2 separate regions of the Homo sapiens genome follow, and region 1 is linked to region 2. The links come from fine-mapping of genetic effects on gene expression. Tissue or cell type: blood mononuclear cells. Region 2 holds a variant in brackets; the other region holds the start of a gene. All regions are shown on one strand. Distances are from middle to middle.

What was found. PIP is the estimated chance that this variant, and not a neighbour inherited with it, causes the effect.
Region 1: C1QB starts here. The variant in region 2 is the best candidate, but not a certain one, in a credible set for the expression of C1QB in blood mononuclear cells (TOPMed, PIP 0.81).

What each region holds. Positions count from the first base shown.
Region 1 is chr1:22,650,861-22,656,374 of GRCh38, forward strand. C1QB (complement C1q B chain) reads left to right here and starts at 2,376. Exons shown (of 3, transcript NM_001378156.1): 1 at 2,376-2,443.
Region 2 is chr1:22,589,280-22,594,279 of GRCh38, forward strand. It overlaps EPHA8 (EPH receptor A8), which reads left to right. Exons shown (of 17, transcript NM_020526.5): 6 at 4,047-4,171; 7 at 4,245-4,407. Among named protein-coding and RNA genes, the nearest start is that of EPHA8, 28 kb to the left of the region's middle. The variant C/T (reference allele first, on the strand shown) is at 2,920.

The DNA of each region.
Region 1 (5,514 bases), 62 kb after region 2:
AAGGAACCCCTTTCCAACCACAGGAAGGTGAGGGGGTGTAGGTTTCTTTTTCCACTCTTTGCAGGGATCAGGGATTTTCCACTCTCAATCAGGGATGTGAGTCCAAAATTTTGTAGGTACAGAGACCAGCTGGCTCCCATTAGCGGTCAAGGCCCAGGGACCCCTCAGCTCCTGATCCCCAAGTCCAGGCCTCCTCCTAATCCAGGCATGGCTTCTTTGCTCCTGGGTTCCAAGAATTCCATCTTCTCTTCATATAAGTAATACCGTTCCCATGTTTGCAGTGGGTGCCCACCAAGGGCTGGGCACTCACCTGGCCCTGGACATGGCAGGGGGACCTCGCTGGCCCCCAAAACAGCCCCAGGAGATAGGCGTTCATGCTTCCCATTTCTACACGAGGAAACTGAGGCCAGTAAACATTCCCGTGGCCACATAGTTAGCAAGACGAAGAGCTGGGATTCAAACTGCCAAAGTCCGTGCTCCTAACCCACCTCTGCTGCTTCCTGTTCTTAGCCTCACTGCTTCTACCCCAAATTGACATCCATCTTTTCCCATTGCCCTTAGCCACCTAAGAATTAGAGGCCCAGAGGCTGGGCATGGTGGCTCACGCCTGTAATCCCAGCACTTTGGGAGGCCGAGGCAGGCAGATCAACTTGAGGTCAGGAGTTTGAGACCGGCCTGGCCAACATGGTGAAACCCTGTATCTACTAAAAAAAAATACAAAAATTAGCTGGGCTTGGTGGCATGCACCTGTAGTCCCAGCTACCTGGGAGGCTGAGGCAGGAGAATCGCTTGAACTTGGGAGGAAGAGGTTCTAGTGAGCTGAGGTCGCACCACTGCACTCCAGCCTGAGCAACAGACTGAGACTCCATCTCAAGAAAAAAAAAAAAAAAAAGAACTAGAGGCCCAGAGCCACTCGGCTTTGGGAATGCTCAGAAGCCCTCAACTTGCAACCTACTAACTCGTTTCTCCCTTTGTGGAATCCAGTGTTTCTTCTCTTCACCCTAGCCTGGGTCCCTTCGGGACTATAGTTGACTGAGCTCAGAGACCTTTTGGTTTTATCAAACTTATCTTTCCCTCCTGTTCACCCATTGCAGTTAACACTTAATTTCCACCAAGCTGCATCCACAAGCCCAGTGAATTTCCATCTCCAAGCACAGATGTCAAGAGGGCCTCCAGCTCCTGGTGCTTGCTAGTCATCATGTCGTCTGAGACGCAGCCACAGGGAGAGACTGATATCCTAGTGCCAGGGATGCCGGCTTCCAGGTCTGCATCTGCCACCTCCATGAGGCATCGGCCCCAGCAGTCACGTCTTTCTGTGACATTTATCACAGAAGCAATGAAGCCTCATGTCATTCCGTGTTTAACACCAGTCTCCCCCCGTAGAAGGGAGGCCCCATGGGGGCAGGGACCATGGCTGATTTGCTAAGAGCTCTCTCTTCAGTGCACATGGAAGCAAACACTAAATATTTGTTAAATGGTGGGTCTCCCCTCTGGGCCTCAGTTTCCTCGTATATAAAATGAGGAGGATGGGCCGAGTAACCTCAGCCCCTCTCCGGCCCTAACTTGGCGTGATTCCAGGATCGAGAAGAAGCAACAGGCCCCTGCCTGGGCCTATTATTGTCATCAGCGTCCAGCCCTGCTGGAAGCAGAGGGAGGGGTATCAATAAATAATGAACACATTTAAAATTCATTATGAGATTATTTTCTGAGAACAGGGAAAGAGCAGGGGCACAGAATGGGAAGGAAGCAGAAGAGATGAGCCCAGAAAGGGGAAGCCTGGGACATGAAGTGATATTAACAATGAACACGTGCACAGCCCTTTACAGTTTACCCCCAGACACTTCCTCCCCCATCATTTCCTCCATTATCCTCCCAGTGGCCTGTGAGATCTGTATCTGTAGAGCAGGTACAATTATGGTCCCATCCTATAGCAGAGAAAATTGGGGCTCCCTTGACTGACAACACATCAACTGGCAAGTGGCAGAGGCGGGATTGGAATCAAAGGCTCTGACTGTAAGCCAGCACTCAGGCAGCGGGCCCGCCACATGATGCTCACTGAGGAACACCCCTGCCCAGTGTAGAAGAAGATCACGAGGTCAGAGAGCCTGGGAGGGTGAGCTGTGGATGTTCCCCCAGGACAGCGTGTTCTCCCCACAGCTGCTGAGTTGGCAGAACCAAACTTGCCACCCACCCGTCTCATTTACAGTAAATCCAGTGGGTTGCAGAAATAGGACCTGAAACTGCCTGAGGGCAGCAGGGTGGGGGGACAGTGAGGGGACGGGAAAGGGGCCAGCCTGCTGGTCCATGGGAGGGGACCGTCAGGGGAAAGCCCTTCCCGCCTCTGGGGAAGGGAACTTCCGCTTCGGACCGAGGGCAGTAGGCTCTCGGCTCCTGGTCCCACTGCTGCTCAGCCCAGTGGCCTCACAGGACACCAGCTTCCCAGGTGAGGACGGGGCTTGGCGCCTGGGGGAGGCTGGCAGGGCCAATATGGCAGAAAGTGGTGATTCCGTAAGTGTGAGCTTTGCGTCACCTGCCTCGGAGCCAGTTAGGCTGTTTAACAGTGCAGGTAGCTGGGCCCAATCCCAGACCTATGGGACCCAGATCTCTGGGGTGAGTTGGGGAGTCTGCTGCTACCCAGGGCCTAGCGGATGGGCAGGCCACCTAAAGCGGGAGCCTGGCACATAGGAGCTTTGGCATCGCAGAGACTTGAGCTGAGTCTGGCTCTGCACCTTATGTATTGGTTATCTTGGGCAAGTCACCTAACCTCTCTCAGCCCGGCCCCCCTACAGAGAACAGAATCTTTCAGCACTGCTGTGCCTTACAGGAGATCAAGCTTGCAAAAGCTTAGTGCATGCCCTGGCTCAAAATTTATCAGTAAACCAGAGGCAGGAGTGGGATTATAAGCCAGTCGCTCCTGCCCGGCCCAGCATTTCCCCAACACCTTGCTTATTTCCTCATACTCGCTGAGAAAGCTCAGCTTGACTCTTCCAAAGAAATAAGGGGATGTGCAGGTAGAGTTACGATGAGTTCTCAGCTAGTACTGAGTGAGCGCAATGTTTGTGCAGCTGGGGAGTGGGATGTGGCACTGCACGGGGCAGGGGGGACCTTATTTCTTCTAAGCGCCTTCTCCTGTCATCCTTCTGGCAGCCCTGTCAGGTTGAAATCAGCATTGCCAAGAGGCTCAGAGAGGTTAAGGCACTTGCCTGAGGTTATGCAGCCGGTAGCAGATGGGGCTTTAAAGTCAAGTGGGCCTGACTCCATGTTGCGGAAAGGGACTGCTGGACCGAAGGAGATGGAAAGGTCAGAGCCTGGGGGGAGGACAGGAGAAACCGCGCTGGCAATGATGATGGGCTGGCACAGGCAGGAGGCAGTTAAACCAGATGAGTTGTAAGCCCTAACCCAAGGCTGAAACTCGGTGGCTTTTGAAATGGGCTAGAACCAGCACTTTCCCACTCCCCCTGCCCCTGGCTTCCCCAGGAAGCCCAAGTCCTGTCAGTACCCTGCTCCCCACCCTCTCTCCCCACCAACTGGTCACAGCTCTCCACCCCTTGCTGCCTCCAACTGACAGAGCCCCTCCCTCTAAACACAGTCTTTCAAAGGGATTGTCTTTTTTTACTTCTCCAACCATCTTCCCTTCTGTTCAACCACTCAGGAATTCTTGGATGACAGTGATAATAATAAAATAGCTAATATTCATTAAGAATTTCCAACATGCCAGGCTCTGTTGGAAGCTGTAACTCATGTCCTCGCACATACCCTATGAGGGAGAGAGTAGCATTATCCCCACTTTATAGGAGGGTAAACTGTGGCCAGAGAGAAGGAGTGATTTCCCAAGTCCCTTAGCTAAGAAGCAGTAGAGACCTTATGTGAACGCTGAGTGTTGCTTTCCTTGTGACACTACAGGCTCCCGCCACCAGGTGAATGTGTGCTGCCTAACAAGAGCAGCAATCATCGTGGTGGTAAAAAGCCACTTTCACCGAACACTGACCATGTGCCTACCACTACCCTTGGTGTGTCCCATGCATTAGTCCTTTTATCAGGCTGTCTGGCTTCAAAGTTTATGTTTTTACCACCAGGTACAGTGGCCTCTTAACATAACATTGAGTTTTAAGATCCAGTGGATGTGGGTTTGACTCCCAGCCACACAGGAGCTGTGTGACTTTTATCAAGGTGCTTGCCCTCTCTGATCCCGTTGCCTCATCTGTAAAATAAGAAAGCAAGAGTGCATTCTCAGGGGCTGAATATCAAATTACAGGGGATAATGGCATGCAAGCCATCTGGCTCAGAGCCTGGCCTATACGTACCCAACTTATTAAAGTTGTTAAATTGCCATTTTGTAAAACCTTTAGCAAGAGCAAGAGTGAGAGCTGATGCTTATTCATGGATAAGCAGGACCATGCCCCTGAGCCACCCTGTCTTCAGAGCATAGAGCCTGACAGAACCTAAAGCTGTCACCAGCATTCCCTGGCCACACTCATCTTTACAGCTTCCTTTCCTTGGTGCACAGTGTCTGGCATAACTCAGGGCTTTCAGCAAGAAATTGATCAGGACTAGGCTGAGGGGCTGAGGCTGGTTTGCAGAGCATAGGAGCCAAATATCAGTAGGCCTTGTCTGGTCCCAGGGAGCCCTCCACATGCCAGACTCTGGGGTTGGGACAGCCAGCATGTGGCAGAGAGGGTAGGAGTTTGGCCACAACCCTGCTGTTAGAATAGTTTGCTGGGTGATTTTTGGGTAGGTTGCTTTCTAAGTTCCGATCCTCAGTTTCCTCATCTGCAAGATGGGAAATTAATCACAACCCACTTCCCCAGGGTGTTGAGAGGATCAGAGAACAGCAGCAATAGCAGTAGCAGCCACAAGTCCCAATGAGAGCTTGGGGCTCAAGGCTTTATGACTCTTTCCCATCCATGGTCTCACCTGGGTCCCTGTGGCCACTCTGGGAAGTAGGCAGAGACCACTCTGCTCCCCCATTTTAAGAGAGGATACAGTTCAGCCTCTGAGGAAAGGTTTCCTGGAGGAAGAAGGCTTTGACCCAAGCTTCGAATGAAGAAAAAACATTTGGATCTGGGCAAAGGTGGAATGGGCTGCCTCGAGAGGTAATGAGCTGCCCATCACTGAAACGGTGCAAACTATGGATGGAAGAGCCCTTGGCAGAGATGTCATTTCCTCACACTCTGCTGAGAAAGTTCAGCTTGACTCTTCCAAGGAAATAATGTGATGTGCAGCTAGCGTTGTGATTAGTTCTTAGGGCTGAGTGAACACAACGTTTGTGCAGCAGGGGAGTGCGTTGAGGCACCACACGGGGGACCTTGGCAGAGGTGTCATTGAGGAAACTTAAGAATAGGCTGAAGGGTCCTCAGGAACTTAAACATGGAATTGCCATAAGCGGTAATTCCTCTCCTGGGTATAAACCCCAAAGAATTAAAAACAGATACTCAAATCCTTGTTCACAAATGTTCATAGCAGCACTCTTCACAATAGCCAAAAGGTGGAAACTTCCCAAATGTCCACCAATGA
Region 2 (5,000 bases):
GAGCTCTGCCGGGGACGTGCTGTGGGCCTTTAGGCAAGTGCCTCTCTGGCCCTGCGCTCCTCACCAGGACCCAGAGCTGGAGGCTCTTCATTGCCTTTAGAAAAGTGGAACACATTCTATAAGTAAGAGAAATCCCAAAAGCTCAGAGGCAGGCTAGTGTGGCCGTCGAAAGCCTAGGTTCCAGAACTTTCCCTCTCTGTGCCTCAGTTTCCTCCCTGGTGCAATGGGAATAATAGTACCTGCCTGAGGTCCTCTCAGGAGGCTTAAATGAGAGGAATGAAATTGCTTAGCCCAGCACCTGGCCCGTGGTAAATGCTCAATAAATGTCATTAAAAAATAAAATCACTCGGATGATCATTTTCCAGAACAGCTGCTACAGCTGCCCTTGGGATAGACTTGGCTGCACTGGCTTGGACCACAGTAGTTTATCTATCAGTTTCTGGCCAGTTGGTGGGCTGAATTCACCCCCGGAACCTCTTTCTTCCCAAACTCTGGAGGACCCTGCCCGTCAAGTGACAGCGTGACCCAAGAGCCCTCCTAGGGCAGCTTCCTATTAACAGCCACCCTCACCTGTGCCCAAGACCCTCAGGCCCCCACCCACCATCTCCTCCCAAAACCACACAGCCCTGGCCTCGCAGACAATATGCCCACCACGTCACAGAGGAAGAAACTGAGGCCTGGAGAGCACCCAGGGCCACCTGACATAGGAAGTGGCAGAGGCAGGGCTCAAACCCAGGTCTGTGTCACTCCCAAGTGAAGCAGGTCCCCCCACTCTGAATCTAGGGCATGCTGCTCCCTGACGCCAGGGCCTCAGCCCTTCAGAAGATTCCCTCATTCGACAGCCCTCGTGGAACACCCACTAAATGCCAAGTGTGGTGCCAGGTGCTGGCAACACAGAGAGAGAGTGAGCTATGTGCCCCGTGGTAGAGCCCAGCCCTGGCCCACCTGTCTCTAGGCACCTGAGGCCCCTGGCAGGCTGGTCCCAAGTGGAGGGGAGAGCAAGAGAAGTTCACAGCATTCAGGCAGCATCCGGGATGCCCCAACATTAAAGAGGAAACTAGACCCTGCCTTGAACCTGCCTTCCCCTCCGGTCACCAGACCATTTCTCTTCCCATACGACCCTCTCTGTCCGTGCCTGGCGTATCTACTTCTTCCTCTCCTCTGCGGGACTTCTCCATGTCTTTCCTCACCTCTTCACAGAAATCAGCAGCCCTGCGTGGCCACATCCATGGGCGCCTCTTCCCCCTTTCATTTCCTCCTCCTGGAAACACTTTTCTCTTGCTCGTGTGTCCCAGCCCACGCCCATTTTCCATTGACCTGTGTGGCCTGTCCCTCTCTGTCTTTGTAGCCCCACCTCCTTTAAATGGCCTCTAAAGGCCATGGGTCCCTGGGAATGTCCTGGGCCCTCCTCTCTTTCCTGTGTGCCCAGATCCATCTTTTCTGGGCGGCTGTTTCAGGGCCCATGACTTTGAATTCCACCTTTGTGCTAACAACCCCCAACTCGCGGTCACCAGCGAAGACCTCTCCCCTAGGACCCAGCTGCCCACTCCTGTCTCCATTCGGTTATGTGAAAAACAAACAACCCTGCCACACCTGCACCTGCCCCGCCCTAGGACATGGCACCTCCAGACCCAAGCTGTCATCCTTGACTCTCATGCATGTCACATCCATCCCCCCCTAAAGCCCCAGGGACCTCCCTTCAAAATGACCAACTGACTTCCACCCCCCACGAGTCCATGCCTGGACCACCACAGGAGACCCCTCTTGCCTCACCCCCACAAGACATTCTCCACACCAGTCCTGAGTGAGCTTTAAAAATAGAAGTGAGGGCTGGGTGTGGTGGCTCACGCCTGTAATCCCAGCATTTTGGGAGGCCAAGGCGGGAGGATCACTTGAGGCCAGGAGTTTGAGATCAGCCTGGGCAACATGGCAAGACCCCATCTCTACAAAAAAAATTTTTTTTGAGACAATGTCTCTATCTGTCACCCATGCTGGAGTGTGGTGGCACAATCACGGCTCACTGCAGTCTTGATCTCCGGAGCCCAAGTGATCCTCCCACCTCAGCCTCCCAAGTAGCTGACCAAGGGCACACACCACCATGCCCAGTGATTTTTTTTTTTTTGTAGAGATGGGGTCTCCCTATATTTCCCAGGCTGATCTGAAACTCCTGGGCTCAAGTGATCCTCCTGCCTCAGCCTCCCACAGTACTGGGATTACAGGCATGAGCCACCATGCCCAGCACCACCGCCCCCCAAGTTTTTTAGATGAAAATACATGAGAACAAGCTGTCCTCAAAGCCCTTCACAGCCTAGGCTGAGCGCACATGCAATTCAGACATTCTCATGGCCTGTGGACCCACACAGCTTCACCCCTGCCTGCCTCTCCAGAGCACCTCTTTCCCTGGCTCACTCTCTTCTGGCCATGATGGTCTCCGGTGCCCCCTCCTTGAACACACTGGGTCTTTCCCTGCTGCTAGGCCGTGGCCTGGCTTCTCCTTCGGAATGACTCACTCTTCCCCTGACATTCCTATGCCTGGCTCCTCTGCCCTGGAAGCTCCCCCGACCACCTCAGCTGAAACGTGCCAGTGCCCTTCCGGGCCCTGCAGTGGTCTTCTCCATCACAGACAGCACCCCTTCCTACCTTTCCCAGCACCAAAAGAACCCCCATTCTCCTGTTTATTGGACGCCCTGTCTCCTTTCCTGGGACAGAAGCTCCTAGAGGGATGTCTTGGGCACTGCAGAGTTCCCGGCTCCTAGCCCCGTGCCCAGCATGTGATAGGCACTCAGGAGTCCTAGAGGATCAAGCGACAGCTCTAAGCAAATGTGGAGGACTGTGCTCAAAGACCACCTGCCCCTCCTGCCTCACCATCACCACTTCTCTACAACCAACTCCTCCCTGGAGCCCTCTCGGACGCGAACC[C/T]CATTCCCCTCCCGCTCTGGGCCCTGGTCTCACTCTGTCTGCCCCCATCCCACAGCACCTCCTGCCTTGGTTTTTAAGAGACACACCCTGTGTGTCCCTTGCAAACAGTGGCCTCATCGAATCCTCCCCTCCCCCTGGCAAGTGGTGCTCACTAGCTTCACTTTATAGAAGGGGACCTGGTGTCCGCAGACAGCAAGTGACTCACCCAGGGTCCCAGCTAGCAAGAGAGGGAGCCAAGTCCCGAACCCACGCCTGGCTCCCAGACTGGTGGGCTTTCCCCTGGACCACACCCTTCCAGTGCAACTCTGGAGCTGCTTCTTAATTTCTCATGCCAGAATCCTCAGCAGCATTTATTGGGCACCTACTGTGTGCAGTCCCTGCCCCCAGGGAGCTCCCGGTTGTGCTGGGGATGCCCAGACATGAGGGAAGACTTAGTCACATAGGGCAGAGAGTCAGAACTCGGGGTGAGCAGAGGGGAGGAGGAGGCCTGAGGGCTGGAGGGGCAGGGAGGACAGGGCAGTTCCCTCTGTTTGGCTGTGGCGTGGCTGTGTCTGACACCTCCTAGCAGCCTCCCCACAGGGCTGACCGCACCTGAGCCAGGAGGGAGAGATGCATGAAGAAAGGCATGGGTGACGCCGTCAAGGAGGGAGGGGTGGGCGGGCAACCAAGTGTGACTGGGAGAATACTTGGGGCTCAGCTCACCCCCTTCCCTCAGCATCCAGAACTGTCCCAGGTATGCCCTCCAAACCCAGGCAGTGAGGGGCCAGTTCCTCCATTCTTTCTACACTTCTTTCTCCTGACCTTTCCTCCTTCCTCAAGCACTCCCAAGCAGCTGGTCCATGCCGGGCCCTGGGCTGGGGAGGGAGGCTCAAGCGTCTTCTTGTCCAAGCCAACCCCAACATCCCAGACCATGCCAGGCCACGCCAACCCCAGGGGACTGACCCCAAGTGGCCACCAGCGATTTGTTGGGAGAACTGGAGGGTGCTGGCTGTCCTGGGGCTGGGGCAGGACCATCAGGAAGCTGAGCAGGGCTGGAACCAGGATCCCCAGGTGGAACCTGGGAAGGGTTGGGAGAGAGGCCACGCCTTGTCTCCCCTCCGCCCATCTGACGGGATTGGCCGCCCCAGCCCCGTCCCAGGTGGTGGTGATCCGTCAAGAGCGGGCGGGGCAGACCAGCGTCTCGCTGCTGTGGCAGGAGCCCGAGCAGCCGAACGGCATCATCCTGGAGTATGAGATCAAGTACTACGAGAAGGTACCACGGGCAGGACGGAGTGGGAGGGGCTGGGCCAGCAGGGCAGGGCCCACTGACCACCGTCCCGTGGCAGGACAAGGAGATGCAGAGCTACTCCACCCTCAAGGCCGTCACCACCAGAGCCACCGTCTCCGGCCTCAAGCCGGGCACCCGCTACGTGTTCCAGGTCCGAGCCCGCACCTCAGCAGGCTGTGGCCGCTTCAGCCAGGCCATGGAGGTGGAGACCGGGAAACCCCGTGAGTGCAGGGAGGGGGCGTGGGCGCGGAGCAGCCCAGGTGCCAGGACCCTGGGGTCGGGGGGTGGCCGAGGAGAGAGCTAGTGCAGGCTGAGCCAGTGCCAATGCAGGATTTCTGCTCTCCTTGCCCTACCAAGTGGGGTTGTCGGAGTTTTTTATTTAATTGAGACAGAGTTTCACTCTGCCACCCAGGCTGGAGTGCAGTGGTGCAATCTCAGCTCACTGCAACCTCCACCTCCCAGGTTCAAGCAATTCTCCTGCCTCTGCCTCCTCAGTAGCTGGGACTACAGGCACCTGCCACCACACCCGGCTAATTTTTGTATTTTTAGTAGAGACGGGGTTTCACCATCTTGGCCAGGCTGGTCTCGAACACCTGACCTTGTGATCCACCCGCCTCAGCCTCCCAAAGTGCTGGGATTACAGGCATGAGCCACTGCTGCCAGCCTAATTTTTTTGTGTATTTAATAGAAATGGGGTTTCACCATGTTGACCAGGCTGGTCTTGAACTCCTGACCTCAGGTGATCTCCCACCTTGGCCTCCCAAAGTGCTGGGATTACAGGCATGGACCACTGCACCCGGCCTCTGTCAGCATT